Linked DNA regions of Homo sapiens. The protein of the gene in region 4 interacts with the protein of the main gene of each other region in a biochemical or structural test. Each region holds a gene or a part of one and is shown on either strand. Other genes may lie near its edges. The genes, in order: ENG, CD44, RANBP9 and TGFBR1.

What was found.
Region 1: of the proteins of TGFBR1 (region 4) and ENG, one has a biochemical effect on the other in vitro, tested with the Homo sapiens proteins (one study listed by BioGRID).
Region 2: the proteins of TGFBR1 (region 4) and CD44 form a complex in vitro, tested with the Homo sapiens proteins (one study listed by BioGRID).
Region 3: the proteins of TGFBR1 (region 4) and RANBP9 form a complex in vitro, tested with the Homo sapiens proteins (one study listed by BioGRID).

The regions. Positions count from the first base shown.
Region 1 is NC_000009.12:127,816,659-127,823,658, forward strand, and holds part of ENG (endoglin isoform 1 precursor), read right to left. Parts: intron 5,863-7,000; exon of another isoform or gene 5,680-5,862; intron 4,841-5,679; exon of another isoform or gene 4,537-4,840; intron 3,380-4,536; coding exon 3,242-3,379; intron 3,003-3,241; coding exon 2,964-3,002; intron 2,175-2,963; coding exon 2,058-2,174; intron 2,054-2,057; exon of another isoform or gene 1,942-2,053; intron 1,732-1,941; exon of another isoform or gene 1,720-1,731; coding exon 1,462-1,719; intron 1,200-1,461; exon of another isoform or gene 1,101-1,199; intron 686-1,100; exon of another isoform or gene 546-685; coding exon 491-545; exon of another isoform or gene 1-490. UniProt on the Homo sapiens protein: Vascular endothelium glycoprotein that plays an important role in the regulation of angiogenesis. Required for normal structure and integrity of adult vasculature. Regulates the migration of vascular endothelial cells.
Region 2 is NC_000011.10:35,142,166-35,149,211, reverse strand, and holds part of CD44 (CD44 antigen isoform 1 precursor), read right to left. Parts: intron 1-7,046. UniProt on the Homo sapiens protein: Cell-surface receptor that plays a role in cell-cell interactions, cell adhesion and migration, helping them to sense and respond to changes in the tissue microenvironment.
Region 3 is NC_000006.12:13,638,828-13,645,873, reverse strand, and holds part of RANBP9 (ran-binding protein 9), read left to right. Parts: intron 1-1,144; coding exon 1,145-1,329; intron 1,330-3,282; coding exon 3,283-3,395; intron 3,396-4,566; coding exon 4,567-4,675; intron 4,676-6,120; coding exon 6,121-6,311; intron 6,312-7,046. UniProt on the Homo sapiens protein: May act as scaffolding protein, and as adapter protein to couple membrane receptors to intracellular signaling pathways. Acts as a mediator of cell spreading and actin cytoskeleton rearrangement.
Region 4 is NC_000009.12:99,150,102-99,154,727, reverse strand, and holds the end of TGFBR1 (TGF-beta receptor type-1 isoform 1 precursor), read right to left. Parts: 3' UTR 536-4,626; downstream 1-535. UniProt on the Homo sapiens protein: Transmembrane serine/threonine kinase forming with the TGF-beta type II serine/threonine kinase receptor, TGFBR2, the non-promiscuous receptor for the TGF-beta cytokines TGFB1, TGFB2 and TGFB3.

The DNA.
Region 1 (7,000 bases), about 29 Mb from region 4:
TAGGTGCCCCCATCCCTCACCCCTGCCTCTGCCACCAGTGTCGGGACTCTTCTGCCTGGTGTGGGCCTGGGCCTGGGGGGAACTGATGGAGAGGCTAGAGGGGGCGTCCTGCAGGGAGAGGCCTCAAGGAAGGCAAGGCCAGCACCCACCCTCAAAGGGCCTCTGTCTCACCCAGGAGACTCCATCCTCCCAGCAAGGTCAGCCAATAACTGTGGGGATGGAGTGGAGCCGTGAGTGGGGGCAGAGGCCTAGACTCCCACCCCACAGGGCGGTCCCGGGCAAGGGCTCTCCATCTGCAAAGTGCAGCTCTGGCCCCTGCTCTAGGCTGCTATGGCTCTGGGAAGCCCTCCTCCTGCCCCTTCTGGGCCGCTTTCTCTGGGGTCCCCCTTGCCATGTGCTATGTGCCCAGGCCGTTTCTCAGGGCTGCCCGCTGTGCCCTACTGTGACCTCAGCCACTAGAACAAACCCGAGAGACCTGGAGGGAGCTCACCAGACAGGTCAGGGCTGATGATGTTCAAGCGCATGAAGACAGTCCTATGGACTTCCTGGAGGAGAAAGAGAGAGCAGTATGTGGCACCTTTGGGAGGCGGCTTCCAGGTTTACTCCCTGGCTCCGTGACCCCAGCCCACCCTAGAGCCTTGGCTTTGAATCCCATCTCCACCGCTTCGTAGCTGGATGCCTCTGGGTGAGTCCTGGAAGATCTGTGCTGTGGGAGGGTGCCTAGTGGACGATCCCTGGCTGCTGCTGAAATGTTTCCTGTGAGTTCCTGGAGGCCTTGATGCCCAGGAGCACTGTGGAAGCACTATGCATCCCTCACCCTTGTGAACACTTTGGAGCTATGAGCCAGGTCAGCCCAGAGTCCCAGGCTCACTCTGGCTGGAGGGAGAGGCCCACTTAGGGGAGTTGAAGGCTTCCCTAGCTTCCTATGACCAGAGAAGTTTGTAATCCTGGAGGCCTGTCTGTGCAAGGGCCTGGGGGTGACTCTGGGGGCGTCCAGGATAGATTGCCTGAGAGTGGGGGTCACCAGATGGTGAAGTGTTGTGACTGGCAAATACAGAAAGCCAGGAGTGTGTGTCCTTTGTCCGCCTCTCTTCCCTCAGGTCTCCTGTTCTTTGAGATTACACTGGTGACCATACTACATGGATGTGCGGGTGGTTAGATTCCTGGGTGGGAGGGTGGATGGATGGATGGACGGACGGGTAAGTGAAAGGATGGATGGATGGATAGATGGACAGTGGCAGCTGCATAGTCTGCCAGTGCCCCAGACACAGCAGTCCCACCAGAAAGCTCTCGGGTGGCAGAAAGTGCTGCTGGCAGCCAGACTGCCAGGCCACATGCCTGATTAAGGCTCCGCCCCTCACCAGCTGGCCCCACATCCCTGTGGGCTGCCATGTCCCTTCCTGCAAACCACAGACCTGGAAGCTCCCACTTGAAGCTGGGGCCGGCCCAGGCCCCACTCACCTGGTCTTGAGACCCGGTCTTGGGACGCAGGGCTACCGTGCAGCTGAGGGTGCCGGTTTTGGGTATGGGTACTGTGTAGAAGTGGAGGAGGAAGCTGAAGCGCGGGTCACCCTCGGGGCTTGGGGACAGCAGGCTCACACAGTTGCCCTTGGCCGCCCGGCCCTGGATGAGTTCCACGGTGCCTCCCTCAGGCCCCAAGTCCAGGTGGCAGCTGTCTAACTGGAGCAGGAACTCGGAGACGGATGGGGACACTCTGACCTGCATGGGTAGGTAGGGCCACGCGGCATGGGCAGCTGCTCTTCACCCCACCCCACCTGCTGCCTTCAAATATCGGCTAGAATTAAGAGTTCCCACCCCTGAGTCCTCACAGTGGAAAGAAAGACATGGACCTGTCTGGGGCAGAGGAGGAGGACAGGGCCACATCCTTGTCAGTGTCCCTGAGCAATGCCTTCTCTGTCTCTCCCTCTCCCGTGCACCCAGGCTGTCTCCCTCCTGACTCTGGGAGTCTCATCTCCTCTGGAGTCATGGTGGGAAGAAAGGCGGAGAGGAAGTTCCAGGAGCTGGGAGGCCCGAGGGGTGACAGGCATGCCAGGTACCTGCACAAAGCTCTGCTGCCCCGGCTCGATGGTGTTGGAGGCCTGGAGGAAGTGTGGGCTGAGGTAGAGGCCCAGCTGGAAAGAGAGGCTGTCCATGTTGAGGCAGTGCACCTTTTTCTGGGGGAGGACGGGAGGGAGACTTGGTCAATCTGGCGGCGCCAGCCAGGAGGGCGAGGGGTGTGGGGAGGAACAGGCATCATGGCCCTGTGGAGTTGCCTGACTCTCTTTTTTTTTTTTTTTGAGACGGAGTCTCGCTCTGTCGCCCAGGCTGGAGTGCAGTGGTGCGATCTCAGCTCACTGCAAGCTCCGCCTCCCGGGTTCATGCCATTCTCCTACCTCAGCCTCCCAAGTAGCTGGGATTACAGGTGCCCGCCACCACGCCCGGCTAATTTTTTGTATTTTTAGTAGATACGGGGTTTCACCATGTTAGCCAGGATGGTCTCAATCTCTTCACCTCGTGATCTGCCCGCCTCGGCCTCCCAAAGTGCTGCGATTACAGGCGTGAGCCACTGCGCCCGGCCCTTTTTTTTTTTTTTAAACTAATATTTATCAAGGAGGCACCAGCTGCCAGGCTGTGTGAAGAGCTTCCACACAGCACCTCATTGGCTGCCCAGAAGCACCCTGTGGCGCAGAGTCCTTTCTTAGGCCACCTTTGGGCCCAGAAAACTAAAGTGACTTGCCCAAGGCCACACAGCCAGTATGTGCTAAGCCCTCTGACTTGAGAGACCAAGAGCGTCACCCTCAGCAGTCCTGCTCCGGTCATACAGAAGGGGAGACCGAGGCATTCCAGACACACATGGCTTGCCAGGAGTTTCCCGAGGCCTGCTCCCTCCCAGGCCAGGAAGAGGCCCCGGCCCAGCAGCAGCCCCTGGGCCAGGTGGGTTAGCACGTGACTGTCCATCTCACCCGCTGTGGTGATGAGCTCGACAGGATATTGACCACCGCCTGCGGGGATAAAGCCAGGGAGCTGGTCAGAGCCAGAAAGGACCCCAGAGGGTATCCCACCCAATACGCCCATTTTTGCAGATGGGGAGACTAAGCCAACCAATGGCCAAGCTTGTCTTGTGTTCTGAGCCCCTGCAGCCTGCTCTCCCAAACACACCTCCACCCTGGGGGATCAGGGAGGGCACCTGAGGGGGCACCAACCAGGCTGGTCCTGATACCTTTTTGGCCCCAGCTCTTACCTCATTGCTGATCATACTTGCTGACACCTGCATGCCACAGCTGGAGTAAGCACTGCGCAAGACAAACTTGTCACCCCTGTCCTCTGCCTCACAGCTGGGGTCCCAGAAGGTCAGGCCCGTGATGGTGCACTTCAAATGCTGGGTCGGAAGAGAGGGGCACCATCAGGAGGCACTGGGGTCTCTGTGGCCTGCCACACCCCAGCACCAAGGACTGACCACAACCCAGGGGTCCCAAGTCACAGCCATTCCCCTGCCCTGCTCCCTCTTCATTTTTGTTAGATGTCATCATCCTACACCACTTAAAAGTTCTTTTTTTTGAGATGGAGTCTCACTCTTTTTGCCCAGGTGCAGTGGCTCGATCTTGGCTCACTACAACCTCCACCTCCTGGGTTCAAGCGATTCTCCTGCCTTGGCCTCCTGAGTTGCTGGGATTACAGGCACGTGCCACCATGCCCGGCTACTTTTTTGTATTTTTAGTAGAGATAGGGTTTCACCATGTTGGCCAGGCTGGTCTCAAACTCCTGACCTCAGGTGATCCACCTGCCTCGGCCTCCCATTGCAGGGATTACAGGCGTGAGCCACCGCGCCTGGCCAAATTTTCTTATATCTATCAAAATAAATACAGAACTATTAAAAATATTCCTTCAGGCCGGGTACGGTGGCTCACGCCTGTAATCCCAGCACTTTGGGAGGCTGAGGCAGGTGGATCATGAGGTCAGGAGATCGAGACCATCCTGGCTAACATGATGAAACCCCGTCTCTACTAAAAATACAAAAAAATTAGCCGGGCGTGGTGGCGGGCTCCCGTAGTCCCAGCTACTCGGGAGGCTGAGGCAGGAAAATGGCGTGAGCCCGGGAGGCGGAGTTTGCAGTGAGCCGAGATCGCACCATTGCACTCCAGCCTGGGCAACAGAGCGAGACTCCGTCTCAAAAAAAAAAAATATATATATATATATTCCTTCAAGTTCCACATATAATCATCACTCACAGCCCCAAGGGCATGCAAACCCTGCAAGCATAATCCAGTCTCAGGCCTGGCGTGGGCGAAGTGTTCCTATAAAGAGCCAGATAGTAAATACTGTCATGCACCATGGGACAATGTTGTGGTCGGTGATGGACTGTGTATATGATGGTGGTCCCTGGTCCCATAAAATTATAACGAAGCTGAAAAATTTCTATTGCCTAGTGTTTGTGGTGATGCTGGTGTAAGCAAACTTATTGCACTGCCGGTCATATAAAAGTCTAGCACAGGCTGGGCGTGGTGGCTCACGCCTGTAATCCCAGCACTTTGGTAGGCAGAGGCAGGCAGATCACAGGAGGCCAGAAGTTCGAGACCTGCCTAGCCAACATAGTGAAACCCGACTCTACTAAAATTATAAAAATTAGCCAGGTGTGGTGGCAGACACCCATAGTCCCAGCTACTGGGAAGGCTGAGGCACAAGAATCGCTTGAACCTGAGAGGAGGAGGCTGCAGTGAGCCGAGATCACATCATTGCACTCCAGCCTTGGTGACAGAGCGAGACCTCGTCTCTAAAACAAGAAAAAGAAGGCCAGTTGCAGTGGCTCACGCCTGTAATCCCCGCACTTTGGGAGGCTGAGGTAGGCAGATGACCTGAGGTCGGAAGTTCGAGACCAGCCTGGCCAATATGGTGAAACCCTGTCTCTACTAAAAATACAAAAAAGTAGCTAGGCTGCGGACCAGGCGCCTGATTTCACACCTGTAATCCCAGCACTTTGGGAGGCCGAGGTGGGCGGATCACAAGGTCAGGAGTTCGAGACCAGCCTGACCAACATAGTGAAACCCCGTCTCTGCTAAAAAAAAAAATACAAAAAATAAGCCAAGAGTGGTGGTGGGCACCTGTAATCCCAGCTACTCGGGAGGCTGAGGCAGGAGAATTGCTTGAACCCGGGAGGCAGAGGTTTCAGTGAGCCGAGATTGTGCCATTGTACTCCAGCCCGGGCAATAGTGTGAGACTGTCTTAAAAAAAAAAAAAAAAAAAAAAAGCCAGGCGTGGTGGTGCACGCCTGTATTCCCAACTACTCAGGAGGCTGAGGCAGGAGAATCACTTGAACCCGGGAGGTGGAGGTTGCAGTGAGCCGAGATTGTACCACTGAACTCCAGCCTGGGTGACAGAGCAAGACTGTCTCAAAGAAAAAAAAAGAAAAGAAAAGAAAAACCACTGTAGCCAAAATTGAAAGAATTACAGCAAATCAAGGGAAGTGGTGGCCAAAGGGGCAACCTTTTTTTCTTTATTAAAACTTATAAAAATCATCAAGAAAAATACCAAGCCTCAATGATAAGGAGACTGAGGTTCTCATCACTCACGTGGAACCATGCCCACACTCACTACTAACCAGAGAATTACAACTAAAACAAGAATGGAACGCCATGTGCCTCTTCCCACACTGGCAAAGGTTTCTCTTTTTTTGAATTATAGTCTGGAGACAGCGAAGAGGTTGAGGTGTTCTCGTAAATCAGTGGTGAAAATTCAAATCATCTTTGGGAAAGTGGGTTGGCAACATGTATTGAAACTTCATTCATTTTGACCCAGTAATTCCACTAATGTGGAAATCTATCCTGAGAAAATAATCCTATATAAAGAAATGTTTCATGCACAATGACATTTTTTGCATATTTATAATACTACAGAATTGGGAACAACCTAAATGTGTAACAAGGGAAGAGGAGTTAATTATAGCATGTCAATATGATGGAATAATATGTGCTTATTAAACATGATATTAGGTACAGCTGTCAAAGCTCTAAAAATACATTAAGTGAAATAGTAAGAGACAAATGAACACATCTCTTATGATTACATCAATATAAGAAATACACAGAGAAAACGCTCTAGAAAGAAGCACACCAAAATGTTGGCAGCCATTGTCTTTGTGTCAGAAGGTTAAGATTTTCTAATTTTCACATATTTTTTAAAGCATGTTTTTTGTTTGTTTGTTTGAAATGGAGTCTCGCTCTGTCGCCCAGGCTGGAGTGCAGTGGCACAATCTCAGCTCACTGCAATCTCCCTCTACCGGGTTCAAGCGATTCTCCTGCCTCAGCCTCCTGAGTAGCTGGGACTACAGGCGTGCACCACCACGTCCGGCTAATTTTTTCTATTTTAGTAGAGACAGGGTTTCACCGTGTTGCCCAGGCTGGTCTCAAACTCTTGAGCTCCGGCAATCTGCCTGCCTCGGCCTCCAAAGTGCTAGGGTTACAGGTGTGAGCCACTGTGCCTGGCCAGCATGTGTTCTTTCATTTTATTTTGAGACGAGTCTTGCTCTGTTGCCCAGGCTGGAGTGCAGTGGCATGATCTTGGCTCACTGCAAGCTCCGCCTCCCGGGTTCAGGCCATTCTCCTGCCTCAGCCTCCCAAGTAGCTGGGACTACAGGCGCCTACCACCATGCCTGGCTAATATTTTGTATTCACCATGTGTTATTTTTATAACAAATATATTTGTTTGTCAACCAGGCAGTGATCATATTGTATAGGCTTTTTTTTTTTTCTTTGAGATGGAGTCTCTCTCTGTCACCCAAGCTGGAGTACAGTGGTGCGATCTCAGCTCACTGCAAGCTCTGCCTCCCGGGTTCACACCATTCTCCTGCCTCAGCCTCCCGATTAGCTGGGACTACAGGCGCCTGCCACCACACCCGGTTAATTTTTTGTATTTTTAGTAGGGACAGGGTTTCACTGTGTTAGCCAGGATGGTCTCGATCTCCTGACCTTGTGATCCACCCGCCTCGGCCTCCCAAAGTGCTGGG
Region 2 (7,046 bases), on a different chromosome or scaffold from region 4:
GTGACCAAAAAGCCAACAATTTTTCTCTGAGTATTGTTGAGAACATGATTTTAAGGTTTGGGGTCTTTTTATACATGAGGCCAGATTTGGAAGTAAAGGTGTAGACAAAGAGGCAGCCAGACCTATAGGAAATCCAGATCCCCGTTCTACTGGACAAAATACAATTAGCTCTAAACTTCCCCTGCCTTGTGTAACATTTCAAACCTCAAGAAAGATCTCTTTAGACTGAAGAGAGTGCAGAGAACAGAAATTTCAAGGGAGGAGGCGGGTTGAGGATCGCTACAAGTAGCAATAGAGAAAAATGAAAGAAGATTTGTATAGACCAGAAAGAAAAAAAATGAAGAAAAAGAATTAGACAGAACCTATAAAAATCACAAAAGATAAGTAACGGAGATGGCTTTGCTAGCCAAGTCTAGAAACATTATTAATTCAGTAAGCCATCCAAGTGTTTATTGAGCACCCACTATAATTGGGGAACTGTGCTGACCGCTCAGGGCTATCATGAATATGAAAATGTATAGAGGGTTTGGGCTTTTCCCTAAGGAGCTTTTATGCTCACTGGCAAAAGAAAAGAGATAACCATTACATGGCATCCTTTAAACTTTCTCTTTTTAAATGGAGATGTGTTTGTGAGGTTTTTATGAATTTTCAGGGGGAACAATAGGAGAAAGCAAGTCACTTAAGGGAGTCTACAGGAATGTACCTGACCTCTAATGATATTGTAAAGACAACTAGTCTCACTGCAGAGGATCCACTGCAAAAACAAACTCCTTGACAGGAGATTTCTTCCCCGAACTTTTATCCCCTCTTGTGGGTTACCTGAATTCCCCTCCCCCTCTTGCAGGCAGATGTGGGCCCAGTAACTCACTGGTGGCTGCGGAGCTGACGTCAGCTGGTTTCCTGCAAGATGGTGCTTAGTTAGCTCTGTTAGATTCTGGTTTTTTGACTGGATACTCAGCAGAGGCAACATCTGTGATTGGCATGTAGTAGCTACTCATTTAAAGTGTGCAAAGACTAGAGCTGGGGGCTTGGGCAGAAATGCCCTTCTAAGCCAAACGCAGGAGACCAGGTGTTGGCTGCATGGAATTGTTCATTTCTCCCTGGCACCTTTTTTTTTTTTGAGACCGAGTTTCGCTCTTGTTGCCCAGGCTGGAGTGCAATGGCGTGATCTTGGCTCACTGCAACCTCTGCCTCCCGGGTTCAAGTGATTCTCCTGCCTCAGCCTCCCAAGTAGCTGAGATTACAGGCATGCACCACCATGCCCGGCTAATTTTTTTGTATTTTTAGTAGAGACGGGGTTTCTCCATGTTGGTCAGGCTGGTCTCGAACTCCCGACCTCAGGTCATCCGCCTGCCTCGGCCTCCCAAAGTGCTGGGATTACAGGTGTGAGCCACCTTTCCCAGCCCTCTCCCTGGCATCTTAATGTGCATAATAGTGAACACTTGCAAAGGGGCTTTACTGTTATCGTGCTACTATCTTGGAAAGGAAGTGGAAAAAGATGCTGCCTAGTTCCACGATTGGTGTGTGGATCCTCCTAGAAGTCACTGCAGACCTGTTAAGTGTAAAGAGATGCACTAAAATTGAAAAAAAAAAAAGTTGGGGGAAGGGGGCTGGAATATGGGATGAGTCCTCATTCCCAGGAAAAGGCCTGCATCCCTTCCTGTGGACTGAGCCAGATGTTCCCAGGGGGCCTTGCCTCCTCCCTTCCTGGGTGGCTTTTTTCTCAGTGAGGGGTACCCAGAGGAAACTCTCTTGCTCCCTGATGGGATGGTCACATGCTGGGCCAAATAGAAGCCTGGTCATCTGGTTTAGGCTAGGGCTGGAGAGAAGGGCTATAGTATACTTCCAGCTTTTGCCAAATTCCTTGTGCCCTGGATATGTACAGCCCTACTCCTGACAGCCTCTTTTCTCAGAGTTTCTCTCCCTCCCTCATCCATTCTAGCCGGTGGAGAGAAGACCCTGGAACCAAGGGCCTGTAAGGTGAGGGCAAATATTTTGCTGCTATTTGATTGGCTCATTTCCCAGTCAAAGTTCTAGCTGATGGAGAAACACTAATCAGCCACCTTTACCTTTCATCCAGGTGACAAATAATGAAGTGATAATGAACAAACAACTCAATTCACATCCCTTTCAGCCCTATCCTATCCTAATGAACAAACAACTCAATTCACATCCCTCTCAGCCCTACCCTATCCTCAACTTTCCATCACATGGAAGAGAGTAGAGCTTCTATTCAGAGATCAGAATGAATGAGTCAACTCAGAATATGCATTGGCAGAAGTTTCCATTACAACTTCCTCCTCCTTCATTTTTGCAATTCTAACCCCTTCCTCTGACATCATGTTTAAAAGCTCAGTGGATGTTATGACCTCACCCACAACTAGATTCCCAAATGAAGTTTTTGAAAACAACTACAGTACTTCCAGGTACAATCGTCTGGATTTCTAGGGTGCCTCGATATCTTAATATACCAAGAGAAGCACTCTAACATAGTGACAAAGAGCATGAACTCTGTAGCCAGATGTGAGTTTGAATCCCAGCGCCATCACTTATCAGCTGCATGGCCTTGGGCAAGCTACTTAAATTCTCTGTGCCTCAGTTTCCTCATATGTAAAAGACAGATAATAACAGCACCACCTTCATGAAGTCAGTGTTTGGATTAAACAAGGCAGTATATAGGAAACAATTAGAATGGCGCTGGTACATGGTCAACACTCTGTAAGTGTTTGCTATTATTACTAATAGTGGTGAGGGTTCTCAGAAACATAGAACTTGTGCAAAGATGCAAACAGAAAAAGCGTAAGAGCTCTCAAAAACAAATGAACTTTCAGGCACTGCGAAGGAGACTTGCAATGCCACAACAGCAGATGCTCAAAATGACTGGTCTATGTGAATAATCTCTTCCCTCAACCCCGGAGTTTTGCAATTAACCTTTACTTTTAAAAGCTGAAGACCTGAAAGTTTCTGGGACCTGAGTTTTGCAAATCACCTCCTTGGTGACTCAGTCCCTCCCCACCCACCTGAGATCTGTCTGCCCACACTTGCACTTCGCAGGGACACTTACCTCAGGAGGACACACCCAGGCAGCCAGTGCAACTCAAACTCGGGGAGATCTGGCTCTGTGAGTTTCCATCGTTCCCCACCCCCACAAGACCCACCCCCTCATTCTGTGTTTGTCTCCCTGTCTCTCAGGTCTAGCTGGGCAGACAATCTTTGGGAAGACAAAACCTGCCCCAGTTATGGGTAATTTCTGACATCACAAGCTCTGTGGAGAGGAGACACCGTTTGCCATTGCCAAAGTGGCTCCCCGTCGGATGTCAGGATTCCCTACGGATTTGCCCCCGAAGAAGCTATGGTAGTATCTGGTCAGATGACAGCTTGATAATTGCCCAAAGAGACCGACAGAGAAGGCAAGAATCTCCCGCATCTCCCATATAGTACTTCTACTTCTCTCCTCTGCCACCACCTTCCAGAAGCAGACATGGGGGTTGGAGGAGTGTGGGCCTCTCACCCAAGGATCTCAACCTCGTATCAGTATCTCCAAAATAACTAGAACCCCAAGGTGGCTGCTGCTGGGGAGTGTTTTTGTTTTGAGGCTTAAATTTGGGGTTGGTGTCCTCATCTCACTGGCTCCCACTCCCTTCTCAGCCCAACTATCTAGTAACCCTGTCTTTAGCCAGATGTCCCCAGCGGTCACAGCAGGCAGCCACCAAAGCCGCAAACAAACAGATGGGTGAGCTCACTGTTTGGGGTAGACCAAACATGAGGCCTGTGGTGGGCAGTCAGCCAGCCAAGTCAGCCCTGTCCTGAGCAACACAGCCATCACCATGGTTCTCACTTACACATAAATGTATTTGCACCTTAGCCCATACTGACAGCATGCTTCCATATATATAGATATCATGACTTTTATATTCTAGACATTCATTGCAGTTCAACAGTTATGGGTCAATATTACTGGGATCTGGGCCCACAAAAATGAATGTGACATGATCCCTGTTATCAGGGGACTCCCCCAGTGCTGCAGAAGACAGGAGAAGATACATTGGAATTTGTTTTGTTGTGGTTATTTTCCCCTTTAAGGGGCATGAAAGTCTTTAGCATTCTTTGGCATCACCAATTCCCACCACACACATAGATCCTTCAGGCATGTACTTATAGGCATACCTGCAATGTGCATATGTCCACATCCAGCAAACAAGAATCAAACATGTGGCTTATCTTGGTACGTCACCCAGTGGGGCAATTGAGCAATGGAGAGGGGAGGAATATGAAATACTTACCTCCAAAGTACACATGTCCTGAATCAAACATTAATTTAATTGACACCATCCTAGTTAAGGAGTTGTAAAGATGTGAATTTCTTTATGCAAAAAGCATTTTTAAAAAGTGTTTGACTTTCAATTACATTAAGTCATGTATTTATTTGTGGAAAAATATATAAACATTTAGTCAAAATATGCACTAGACATCAATTGGTAGAGTGTTTGCATATTTGAGATCCTGACTCTCCCAGAAAATCTGGAACGCACAATGACTGTATCCATGCCTGGCCAGACTCCAGAACCACAAACTTTAGAAAGCACCCCTTCCGGTTTACTCTGGCAAGTTGGGCTTGCCTCGCAAACCCAGTTGGGCAGCTGTGGGGGGTACACTTAAAAAAAATTCAACCTGCTAAGTGAGTGAAAAGTGGGATTCAAATTTAAGGTAGAAGGTATCAACCTACCCTGCCATTCTAAAGAACGCCTACAACCTTCCCATTAAAGCAGGGACACAAAGGAAATTGAGTCATCGGTTTCTTGCTGTGCAAACCCCAGAATTTCTCTCTGAGGCAGAAAAAGATCCCCTTTGAAAACTACACGGTGCCTGGTAGCATCTGCCACCTGCTTCAGCTCATTCTTTCGCAAGAACCACTTCCCTTTCAGGCTCTTCGGTGGAGTGACCTAAAGCGAAGGTGCCGGGGAAGCACAATTGCAGTTACTCTCTTATCCCCAGCCCCAGCCCCAGCCAGGAGGCAGTGCTGAGGAGGCCCAGGTGATCTCCAACCACCTCCTCTCCATCAGGGGACCCCAGCCTTGAAGCATCTGACACTGCAGGTGGATCCGAAACCTCACTTGGGTGGCCACATGTCACCTAGAGCCACACACTGGGTTTCAGTTCAAGACCCATGTCAGCCTCCTACCCAGGGTCGCACAACCTACTAATGAGCATGTGAGGAGTGGGTCTCTGGGTCTGTGCATGTGAAATGCTTGCCTGGTCAGAGTGAGAGCTCCTGTAATGCTGCTTTCCTAATATTCAGGCAGAGGGCATTGCCCTAACTTGTCCTGTAGACAAGCAACCACCTCTCTCTTTATTCCAAGCCTGTAAATCAGAGCATATCTGGGAGGGCAGCTGGACTCTGATAAGGGATGTGATTTATTTTAGTTACAAATAACTTGGTTGGCATCTCTGATATCTGTGGCCAAACCTGGGGAGAGACAGGCCAGGGCAGGGCAGCCAAGAGTCCACAGCCTGCCGGGGATGGAGAGAGAAGCCACCCATGCAAGAGTTCACTTATGCTGGCCACAGGGGACAGGTAGTGTGGGAGAGCCACGTATAGCTTCCAAAGTCCTCCAGACACGTAATGAATTGAAGGAGCATAAGCATTGGAGTCTAACATGGGAGGATGTTAGATAATGCGGAAATCCCAACTCCACCACTGGATCCTGGGGCAAGTCATGCCATCTCCACAAGTCTCGATCTCTTTATCTAGAAAATGGAGTTAAAGAGAGTGCTAGGTGTATTGGGCTGTTGGGAGGCTTAGATAAGATATCCTGTGCTACCCCCGGCTTCACATCTAGTATAGAGTCAGTGCTCACTGAGCAGTATTTCCTAGAGACTCAGGACTTAGGACCCTGCTTTACACAGGACCATATGGTACCACAGCAGAGCATCAGGTTTTTAAAACTTTGGTGCTCCTGACCATCTAGCGATGTTCCAGGAGGTGCTAGAAGCCCCAGGACAATACAGAGAATCATTGTCGAACACCAACATTGCTATATGGTCAAAAATATATATCATTATTATTGTATTAAACTCAAATTGGGTATATTGTAGAGTAATATATAAAACTGTAATGAGTCTGTAAGGTAGTATTTAAGGTGTGAAACAAATGTTGTTACCCCAGTAGACCACACCCTCCCCACCCACTGCAGGGGGTGGGGTTGAGGCTCCCACAGTCCTCATGATAGAGATACATGAGAGAAATGCCCTGCCCTAATATCTTAACAAGTCGCAGAGAGGGGAAGTCACTAGTCCCTCTCTTTCAGATTTTCTAAATGATCCTTAGAGTTCCCATCTCTGAGTCTATGACAATGAGTCAGGAAATAGTTCCTGAATGAATGGAAGGGAATCTGTCATGAACTAAGAATTTCATGCTGTCCAGCATCCCCTCCTTTGTGGGGAAATTTGGGAAAAAACAAATGGAACATTTTCCTACTGGCTGCCAGCCTCCCACACAAGGACTTGTCACCATGCCTTTGCAGCAAGTAGATGTCCAATGTGTAAATGGGGAATACCTGAATTAGTTGATGCTAGCCCCAACAGAGATGAAGCTTTGCCTCTTTGCTCCTTCACATGGGAAAACACAGCTAAAGTTCTAACTCCCAGCAGGGGGCGGAGTCTCTAATGCTCAATTAGAGAGAAGGGAGCAGAAAGGTGTGTGCCAGCCCTAAGACCCAGGGCTCTCAGACGCTCTCCTCTTTCTCAACACCAGGCATGCAATTCCCAAGCAAAGATCCCCTCACCCAGTCTATCATTGTTGGACATTTGGGTTGGTTCCAAGTCTTTGCTATTGTGAATAATGCCACAATAAACATACATGTGCATGTGTCTTTATAGCAGCATGATTTGTAGTCCTTTGGGTATATACCCAGTAATGGGATGGCTGGGTCAAATGGTATTTCTAGTTCTAGATCCCTGAGGAATCGCCACACTGACTTCCACAATGGTTGAACCCTAAAACTTAAAGTATAATAATAATTAAAAAAAAAGATCCCCTCACCCAC
Region 3 (7,046 bases), on a different chromosome or scaffold from region 4:
CTTTGCATTTTACTGTGAAATCTATTTAACATATTCACACAGAAATTATCCGCTCTTGATCTTTACCTTGTTTTGTACTGAAAAATACTTGTTATAACTATTAAAGATATAAGACATAAATACAGAAAATGAAAATATGGTAGGATTTGGAGTTGCAAGAGGAAAAATCAGTTTTGGATGTGGTATCAGACAAACTTGTGTTCCAATTCCATCTCTGCCATTTGTTAGCAGAACGACCATGAGCAAGTTATTTAACCTTGAATCCTCATTTTCTCTGTCTTTGAAGTAGAAATAATAATAGTGGCCTCACAGAATTATGATTAAACCCTGGCATTTAGTAGCCACTCAGAAACTCATTCTGCCTTTAGATGTAACAACCAATTAGTGACATAGCCAAAAGAATGACCCCTGTATTTTTTGTTTACTTGAAGTTATCACCTTTTCATCTTGATTAACCTTGAAACCATGGAGTGTACCTGAATGCATTTCTGAGTTTGGGTATATTCAGATTCATCCTTTTCCTCCCTTGAAATACATATATTTGAGGTTTTGTGTTTTTTTTTTAATATAGAGAATCTCCACTCTTCCTGGCACTGTGTTTTGCTTATAGTTATGGTCTTATCCCCTTCCCTTTGTAAAGTTAGGCATCCCAAATATACAGAATGAAAACAGTAAATTTAAGCTATTAAATGCCAGACTAGCTGAGATCATACTTTTATGATAACTAGCTTTAACATGCAGTTTATAGAAATGTATCATATATAAAATGTGGGATAAACCTGAGTTATGTGTTTATAGTTGAATTTCTGTAACTACTATATGACATAATCTTAGAACAAGAATTACATGCACATATATTAGTAGCATAATACCACGTGGTATAATACAACGTAGTCCCTGAATAAATAAAACAGAGATCTTGGGTCTCTTTGTTTTTTCTTGATGATTACATTGCAGGAAGTGATATTTTTTCATCTAACATATAATGTATTTTAGATCATTTGTTTTAGCCTTCTAATATTTTGATTGGGATTTTAAAATATGAAGTAAATTTATAGTTCTATTCTTTTAAATGTAACATTAAAAGAATTATTAAATCTAACATAAAATGGATAGATGTTTAATGAAATATGCTATCTTACAGCCAAATTTGTATCCTACTGTGGGGCTTCAAACACCAGGAGAAGTGGTCGATGCCAATTTTGGGCAACATCCTTTCGTGTTTGATATAGAAGACTATATGCGGGAGTGGAGAACCAAAATCCAGGCACAGATAGATCGATTTCCTATCGGAGATCGAGAAGGAGAATGGCAGACCATGATACAAAAGTAAGAGTGAAGAAATTTCAATTGATGCTATTCAGAATCTGTTTTTTATAAGACATTTATTCTGTTGGTATCCACAGAAGCTTTTTAATCCACTAATTTATATACTGACATATCTATTATATTATTGATTTTAATCTCTCAACGAAAAGTAATTTACTCCACTATTTAAACAAATTAAAAACAATTGTTTGACACACGTACAGAATTGTATTTCAGTCTGAATTAATTTGATGAAGGAAATAAAATGATGTTAGGTCACCTAGGCTAGGTTAATTCATTTGCTATTCTTAGTAATAGGATTTAATGATTTCTGTAGGTTATACAATTTAACTTTTAATAATGTTAATGGAAAAGATAAAGTTGAGAGATAATCTAGATCTTATAATCAGGATCTGTGGTTTTTGGTCATGAACTTGGCTATGTCCAAGCTCTTAATATCTGAACTATCAGCAGTAGTTAAGTATGGACTTAAAATTTAAATAAATACCATTAAATTTAAAAAGTCCTCTTCACTATTATAATCCAGGTCAAGAAAATAGCAGACTTTCAGATACAGTTGGTCCAACACATTTCATCTTTAATGTCCTTATAATTGCTTTGAATATTCTTAACTTTAAAATTGTAATAAAATGTTGGGGGTATTTTTTAGAAAAGGAAGTGATTGGGAGACATGATGATGACTCTGAAATCACACTTCGTCCCTGGAGCTATTATCATCTGTATTACAGAGATTGGACACTAGTTTTTTTGTCCAGCCCAGTTGAGAATAGACAACCCTGATGCAGAATCCTATAGTCACCACGAAGTGAAGCTAGAATGGGTTGTTCTGGGGCCACACTGTTTTAATGCTCTGAAAATGGTTACCACTGAGTATCATGGCAAGATAGTAGAAAACATTTATCTTAACCTTATAACCAGGATCCTTCCACCCACTTCTTCACTGACTTGATGTTCACCATGAACTCTTGAGAAGTCCATTCTAAAAGGTCCCCTCCCCCTTAAATTAATTTGAACAATTGGGTAAAATAAGATGCAGATCTGTTTCTTAGACATTTTCCTCCCTTTTCTCCCTCCGCTCTTTGCCTCAGTCTCCTCCTGTGGTGAACCACTGCTTCCCACGATTTTCTAACTGGCCCTTAGTAGTGTCAGGTGGAGGCAAGTTTAAAAATTGACTGTTTGGAGATAACAGATATTTGGGTTAATATTGTTGCATCACCAGTTTTTCTAACCACATCTTGTGGGTAGATGTAAGTATATGTTTTGACTACCTGGTACGTTTTTAAAAGATTATTGTCTTGGAAATGTGTCACTTACATGTAAACCATATTTGATAAATCTCTTGGGTAAAACCATAGTAATTGATTTAGATTAGAAGGCTGATTCCTCCTTTAATTAGTAGTACACTTATAGACATGTTCTGGAAGATTGTCTCTCTGGATTCACCTTAGTATTCTGTACATACTTTGTGATCCCACTTCATTTAACCGGTGTGTAAAGAAGATGGTTGAACTCTGGAACATTAAGAGTTAATCTTTTATTTTAAAGTTGGTTATTTTACAGAATGCCAGCAATACTGGAATAAGTCATATGATAAAGTCAAAATAGAAATTATGGTTAGTAGGGCTGAATAATAAGATAGGAAGGGACCTGGGGGTAATGAGAGTCCAAGAATCAAAGAAAAGGTCATTTAATGTCCTTGATTCTCAAGTAATATTTATTTTAGGGAGAGTAGTCTCAACATAGCATTTGCAGTTATCTTTTCGAAAATAGTACATGAATAGAACAAAATGATGTTTTTCAAAAGCTTACTTTAAAGGTGAGGTTCTTAACGCCTTGTTTCAAGGAAATAGGTTCGTTTTTATAACACCAGAATAGATTTTGTTTATATAAATTGTAGTATGAAGCATGTATTCTCTTCACTAAAAGATGTATGTTTCTTCTTTTTATTTTAAGAATGGTTTCATCTTATTTAGTCCACCATGGGTACTGTGCCACAGCAGAGGCCTTTGCCAGATCTACAGACCAGACCGTTCTAGAAGAATTAGCTTCCATTAAGAATAGACAAAGTAAGGACACTGTGGTGCATGGCTAACATTTGTTTTCAGATTATAGATTTGGTTACTTTAATTTTTAGAAATTTTGTTTTTTTAATTAAAAAAATTTCAAATATATTAATTTAAAATGGATGCCTCTGAATTTTATTTTCACTGACATTTTTGAAGATCAGTTTAAAAATTCACATAGGACTATGTCAGAATTCTAATTCTAGAGAGATTTTACAGAAGTTTTTTGAAGGAATGTCTTTACCATTTTTTTCTTAAATGTTTTCTTAAGCTTTCAGGAAATAAACATTTAATAAAAAGATTTAAAAATAATAATAAAGTAGTCCTGATTAGTTGGAGGAGATAGTATGTGAAAGAAATGTAAATATCTTTGAATTTAAATGGCTAATACAGTATTGATCCATAAGTATTTATTATTTAGATCCTAGTGCTGGCCTCTGTGGCCAGAGATAAAACAGGTCCTGTATAACAATGGCAAGTCAGCATAACTGGTCCATAGTTAGCCATCCTAAAATTGGTGCTGTTTGTCCATCAGGGTGGGTATGACTTGACAAGAGTATAGAGATGAAAACAAAATAGATGGGTGAAATTAATGGGTGAAAACAACTATTTCATAGGTCAAATTGCTGTAATAGCACTGATTACATTGGGTTGTAGTTAATTGTGTGCTGTCCTTTTCTACTATTTTAATAAGCTCTGTTGAACAGAGATCACTTACTCATTTTGTATCCTTATCATCTAATTTAACATATAACAGATCAAGTGAATGCTCAACGAGTCTCTGTTAAATTGGAATCTTAGTCAAAAGCTAGCATTTTTCAGTCCTTTGTTCAGAAGATTATGTTTGATAAGGCATTTTAGTATCCCTTTAAAACAGTCTTTTTAATCTCAGTGTTTGAAACTTCAATATTGCATAATAGGTATTTTAACTATATTACTCGTATGTTCGTGATTTTAAAAAAAAAATTTGTGACCGTACTTGTTTTTCTAATTTTCTAGTATGTCTGAAATGTTTCCTGGATTGCCTAATGGAAACTATGATGTTAGAGAAAGAAATTGAAATTAATCATAATTTATTTAAAGATTTCTTACTAACTTTCTTTTCTGAGGTCACTAAGTTTATGTTTTATCTACTTTTGTAAAAGTTAATCGTTTGCTTTCTTTTACTGAATAGGAATTCAGAAATTGGTATTAGCAGGAAGAATGGGAGAAGCCATTGAAACAACACAACAGTTATACCCAAGTTTACTTGAAAGAAATCCTAATCTCCTTTTCACATTAAAGTGAGTTTGCATAATAAAATGCTATATTTGTTATATATTATAAATATTTGTCAAGTTATGTAATAAAAGACATTTTCGTGCTTTTGTAATTTTAGTTTTTTTCGTTTTTCAAGTATATACAATTTTGTAATGTCATTTAAGCAACATGTTATGAAAAATACTTTTGTGTTAAGGACCATAAGCAGAAGGTGTCTTTTGCTATGTATTTGCTTTTATTATTCTATTTATGTGTTTAAAAATGTGAAAATCTTATTTAGAAGATGGGTGTCTATTTTTCCTTCTCAGAAGTACCTTACATTTAATCTCTCTGGCATTTTAAAAAATTGTGGTAAAATATACATAAAATTTACCATTTTTTACATTCACATCATTGTGCAACCATCACCACCATCCGACTCCAGAACTTCTCCATCTTCCCAAACTGAAACTCTCTATTAAACACTAACCATCCATTCATCCCCCTAGCCCCTGGAAACCACCATTCTACATTTTGCCTCTATGAATTTGACTACCCATATAAGTAGAATCAGAGTATTTATTCTTCATTACTGGCTTATTTTAGTGTAATAGCCTTAAGGTTCATCTTTATTGTAGTATGTATCAGAATTTTCTTCCTTTTAAAGGCTGAATTTTACTCCATTGTTTGGATAATACTGCATTTTGTTTATCCATTCATCCACTGATGGACACTTAAAGTTTGCTTCTACCTCTTGGCTGTTATGAATAATTCTGCTGTGAACATAGGTGTACAAATATCTGAGTCCCTGCATTAGATTTTTTTGGTTATATACCCAGAAGTGAACTTTCTGGATCATATGGTAATTCTATGTTTAACTATTTTTTTTTAATAATAGCCATCCTGATTTGACAATTTTAATTGGTTTTATGAATCTTTGTTACTTAAAAAATGAGATGTTACTGAGCTTCAGATTTCAACTTGTTAAGCAACAGATATCCTTTGTAAGTCAAATGACAGAATTGTTTTGCTTTAGAATAAGAATTTTAAATGAGGCCCATTTTGGTTAAGAGGTTGGGAATGGGACGGGTGGGGAGAAAGGCTACGCTTTATATGTATCTCATATACATAAAATCATGTCCTTAGGCACAATTTGATTTGCTACCAAGCGCAAATGTTATTTTGATTAAATTACTTGTAGCCAAAAAAATGGGGTTCATATCTTCTTATAGGTAAATTTCCATTTGGTAAATCCTGATTAAAGGGGGTAATATTATTATAGTGTCTATTACATTGTACTCTCATTTTTCTGGAAATTCTAAAATTCTAAGCATTAAAGCATAGGACACCATATTTAATATTTTTAGCTTACTAAAGACCAATCCTACTGATAAATCAAAGTTTTAAAAATATTTTTAGAAATCTGTTGCTATTAAATAAAAGGCCATTTGAAGATTGTGTCTAAGTAAATTTTTCTTTTCTCCTTTAGAGTGCGTCAGTTTATAGAAATGGTGAATGGTACAGATAGTGAAGTACGATGTTTGGGAGGCCGAAGTCCAAAGTCTCAAGACAGTTATCCTGTTAGTCCTCGACCTTTTAGTAGTCCAAGTATGAGCCCCAGCCATGGAATGAATATCCACAATTTAGCATCAGGCAAAGGAAGCACCGCACATTTTTCAGGTGAGATTTAACTTATGACATTATTTTTAGATTTTTCCTCTTTATAATCTTAAACCTTTTTCCTTTTGAAAATCTGTATATTTCCAGCTGGGCACGGTGGCTCACGCTTGTAATCCCAGCACTTTGGGAGGCCAGGGTGGGCGGATCACGAGGTCAGGAGTTCGAGACCAGCCTGGCCAACATGGTGATAACCCCATCTCTACTAAAAATACAAAAATCAGCTGGGCATGGTGGCAGGTGCCTGTAGTCCCAGCTACTCGGGAGGCTGAGGCAGGAGAATTGCTTGAATCCTGGAGGCAGAGGTTGCAGTGAGCTGAGATCACGTCACTGCACTCCAGCCTGGGTGACAGAGGGACACTCCATTTGTCTCAGAAAATCTGTATATTTCCTTTGTAGCTGTTTTCAAATGTGTATACTTAAGATTTTTCTGGGTGAAAAATTGTAGGTTCAGATTGACATGTTCTCAGTACCAGGAAGTCACTTGAAGAACAGCTGTCTGAGAATAGGTTATTAGCAGACCTTCCTAAATGAAAGTCAGCATTCACAATGAGTAGTCACCAGAATTAAATTATTGATTTTTAATAGTGAAAAGGTAATTGTGTGTTTTAATAAAATATAAATTTAAAGGTGATGTGGCTGTGATACCTTATGCCACTGGTTACCACATCTAGCTGGGCTGCCGCTGCCTCCCTCCTCTCCCCCCACCCCCAACCTTTCCCAACCAAGCCTCTTGCA
Region 4 (4,626 bases):
GATGAGGCAGAAGGGGAGATCCGAGAAAAGTGCAAGGATGATTCAACCCATTGCTGCTGGTTTTGATGATGGAGGAGGGAACCACGAGCCAAAGAATTTGAGTGGCTTCTAGAAACTGACAACCACCCCTGGCCAACCTGTCTTACAACCATATGGAGCTGAATTCTGCCAACAACCTCAATGAGCTTGGAAGCCTATTCATCCGAGCCTCCAGAAAAGAATGTTGCCCAGCCAATGCCTTCATTTTGACCTTTTAAAATATGGAGCAGAGAACCATCTGAGCTATGCCTAGACTTCTGAATTATGGAATTCTGAGATCATAAATAGGTGTTGCTTTAAGCCAGGGCATTTGTAGTAATTTATGGCAGCTATACAATCATACAGTCTTTGCTAGTTGTACATATATCCACCATTTCTGGTGCTCTTCATTTCATCCTGTGGATTCAGGTTACCATCTGGTGTCATTTATTTTCTGTGTGAAGGATTTAGTATTTCTTGTAAGGCAGACGTCCATAGGCAACAAATTGTCTTAGTATTTGTCTGGGAATGTCTTTAATTTCACTTTTTTTCCAACTTTCAACAAAAGCTTCATATCCTGGTGATGTCTTTGTTATAAGGAAAAAAAAAAATCCCTAAATCCAGCCTTCAAATTGAAGTAACTATCTTTAATGTGAGAGCAATCCTATTCACAAAGCCCCTCCCCAGAGTCAATCAAGGGTTTGGGGACCACATCTCATCATTTTTCCAGTTCTCTTGTAAGCCAAGTTTTCACCCCCAGGAGACTAACAAATGTGCTGACCCAAAGGCAACAGAGATCACCTGTAGACAGGTCCATCATGCCCCAATGGAAGACCCACACCCCTAAGCATGTGGAGAAAAGCCCCCAGGCACAGAGACACACCTGCAGACAGGAGGGCACTCCCCGAACACGCTATAATATTGTAACTTGCACTAGGCAGGGTTAGAAAACTTCTAAAGACTCTTGTAACTCAAAGGTTCTAGTTGCCATCTACAGCAACTACATATGGCATGACTCATTCCAACGTATACACTTTATTTTAAAATATGCCACTGGCACTTGGGAAAAATGTAATTTATTTGCACTGCTTCCATTCTTCTACTGTAGTGTTAGGACTTAACATAAGCATCACTCTTCTATTTCCTATTTACATTCTTTTGGAATATTACTACAAATACAATATACAATTTAAAAAAACTTATGGGGAAACACAGCTTATGTTTTTTTCTCCTCTTTACAGGCTTCTCAGTATCATTCGACTTCAATGGAAATTTATATGGACATTTTCTGTACATATCTTAAAAGGCAGAGATTACACTGATAAAGCCTAAAGAATCCTGCACAAATACAATACAGAAAACAGAAAGTACAGACGATGTTATTTGGGGTACAAATATAAACAATACAGTACCATTTGAGTAACTGAGCAACATAATACCCATACTTTATAGAAATAAAACTGCAAACCTGGAGAATGCTCTGACAAATATTAAACATTATATACACAATGAGGTAAATGTACCTTGGTCTCTTGAGAGGTAATTTAAGTTTAAAGCAATTGACATTTTGAAGCATCTCCTTAACATATGAAGAAATATCAAACACCCTATTCCGTTGGCACAACGTGAAAAAGGGGTATCAAAACATGGTTCATGATATTCAGTTCACAAATCTTGTTAAAAAATAAAAACAAATTCACTGAAGTTCCTTTTAAGTTGTAATAAACAGGTTGAATGTTATTAACCATATTTTTAGAAGTTTACATTTACAAACAAGATTGCATAATGGGATTGAAAAGTTTAATGTACTGACAATCATCTTAATGTCCTAGAAGTCCAGCACTCTTGAGAGGGCCCATGGGTATTCCAGTAATCCAAAACAGAGACAAGAAGCTGCAGTACATGTCCAAAGATAATCCTTAGTATCTCAAAATATCTGAGCTGGCATTTTCTGCCAAAGTGTTAACAGAACCATTATTTGGAATCACTACCATTTGGAGCCAGAACACTGCCATGGTCAAGAAACAGTTGACTTACGATTCTTCCAGTGCAAGAATAAAAATAAGCTTTTGATGATGTGTCTAATGGGATAGTGATTTTGTTGTGCACTCTAACGATCTCTTTGCCATCTTGTTTTAATCTGACAGTTCTCAGACATAGAGAAAAAAGGTAACTCATGCATGTACTACAAAATCGCCAAGTGACCACTTACATTTTGTAATAAAACCTGAAATCTGGGATTCTTGATGGCCATGGCACTGTACACCAACTCAAGGCACTTCTTGAGCACTATCATTATTACAGCAGAATTACAGGCTCAGCTCTTCAGACCTTACCCTGTCTTATAGGCGATACAACTGGCCACTGTTTCTGGCACAACTCCACTGCCACAGGAGCCACCTTGCTGCCATCCCACTCCTCATCCATGGCTGAAGTCAAAGCAGGGGCATCCCAAGCCTCATCTGCTCAATCTCCAAACTTGGAGACCCCTCCCTTCCACCTCTAATGACTGAAGGAAATGGAAGTGGGTCCCACAACTTCCATCAGCCGTTTTACTCTAGGTCTCCAGAGCAGCCTTCAGTCAAACGGCTGTGGGGGAGGCAACGGTCTCTGCGTCAGGGACCAGCAAGCAGGAGAGCAGGTTCCAAGAAACAGCTGGAGACAGAAAGGATGGACCAGGGATGTCTATGCCTCACTAAGTCGTATTTCCCCCATCCCCATTTCTCCTGGCTACTGACAAAATGAATATGGACGCACAATTTACCAGAAGATGTTTTAGCCACGTTGAATCTTGGAAGGTGAGCATCCTAGGATGGGCAGTATAAACAACTGTGTTTTTAAATGACAAAATTATTACTCTAATCAAATTTATCTGCAGTTATCGACAGTAATCATGATCCATCCCACCTTTTAAGTTTCTTTCATTTTCAATATCAGCCAATTGTGGTTTATCAAACCATCCCTAGCCAAAAAAGGAATTAACTGCAGTAATACGTAAAGTCAATTTAGAACTAAACTCCAACTTTAAAAAAATTCCCTGATTCATCAAAAGTACATTTTATCCACTTAGGTAAGAAAAGTATAATTGTAACTCAATCTTTGATTCAATAAAAAATATCTTCAGCAAAAGTGGATAACCTTACATGAAAGTGAGAAATCATGTATTACAACTTTAAATCAGACAACTTTTGGTATATTCTTAAAATTATATAAAAATAGTTTTAGTGATAAAATGCATTGGTCCCCTGGATTTCATAAAGCAGATCTGGTAGGCTTAGAAATGGCCCAAAAACAACAACAAAAAAAAAAAAACAAAAAAAAAACCCCCACAAAAAAAGTACCTGATCACAGAATTAGAGATTATTATTAAACAAGTAATACAACACAACTATAAAAACAAACCTCTCAAACTCATTCATTTGCTTCAATGAAATTATGGTAACTACAGAAAAAAACTCAACTTTGTAGTCAAAATAGTAACCTCTAAGCATTTTTCCCATGATGTTTTTAAACACATGAAATTGACACTAAATTCCTATGTAATATGTCACTCATTCTAAAATTACTTTGGTTTTAAGATCAAATAGTCTTTCAAATTTATTCTACGTATAAGAGATAAGACATTATCAGAATGCAACTCATTCAGTGTAAATGGCCACTTTCTCTTCCTGACCAAAATACTGTATGGGTTACTCTGACCCTGTATCGGGGAACTGATAGCACTATAAAGTCGAAGTCTTGCCTCAGAGCTATGATAGTTTTTTCTCCCCTCAGAATAAGATCACAGTGATAAAAGGACTTCGAAAACTGTAAAAGCCCTGCAGAGACTTCATAGCATTGGAAGTAAAAACCAGTTATTATAAGCTAGTTTCAACTTAATGTAAGAAGACCATGACAAGTTTGCTTTCAATATTTGACCAAAGACATCTGTAAATGGAGAAAAACCTATACTCAGAATGTTCTTTAGCTACCACCTCTCCCAAGTAACAAGGGTGCACTGAATGCATTACATAAATTACATGTAAGCAGTTGCAATGTACGCACACATAAGGAAACACTGAATTAAAAGCTGCCTTCCTCAAAGTGTAGTGAGACCTCAAAACCACACTAGCTCTAACCTCAGTTACAAAGACAGAGGATCCACCGAACGTTTACTCCTACATACATAACAAATGTGACTTTCTTGCACATCTGTTATCTATTCAAATTATTAACTACCTTCGCCTTCCTAGAAAAAGGCCTATTATTTAATATTAACCATATTCTAATTTTAAATGTAATTCATGTCTTAAAAAATAAGTCTTTGAACAGATAAAGAAAAAAATGGCTTACAGAATACCACATAACTTTTCACAAGCAGCTAGACAGACTTTCCCTTTTAGAAAAATTAGTCTGTATGCTACAAATATTAAAGTACTATAAGCATCTAGAGTGCCACTTGATTTTTTAAAAGTATACTTAGACAACACAATTAAAATGCAAAAGCTTGATGTGAGAATATTCAAACATGACCATGCTAATAATTTACTAATTAATGCCACTTCATTTCTTTAGTGGCTTAAGCACATTTTGGTAGGAGAAAGGCATTTTCAGAATAGAATACCAAAT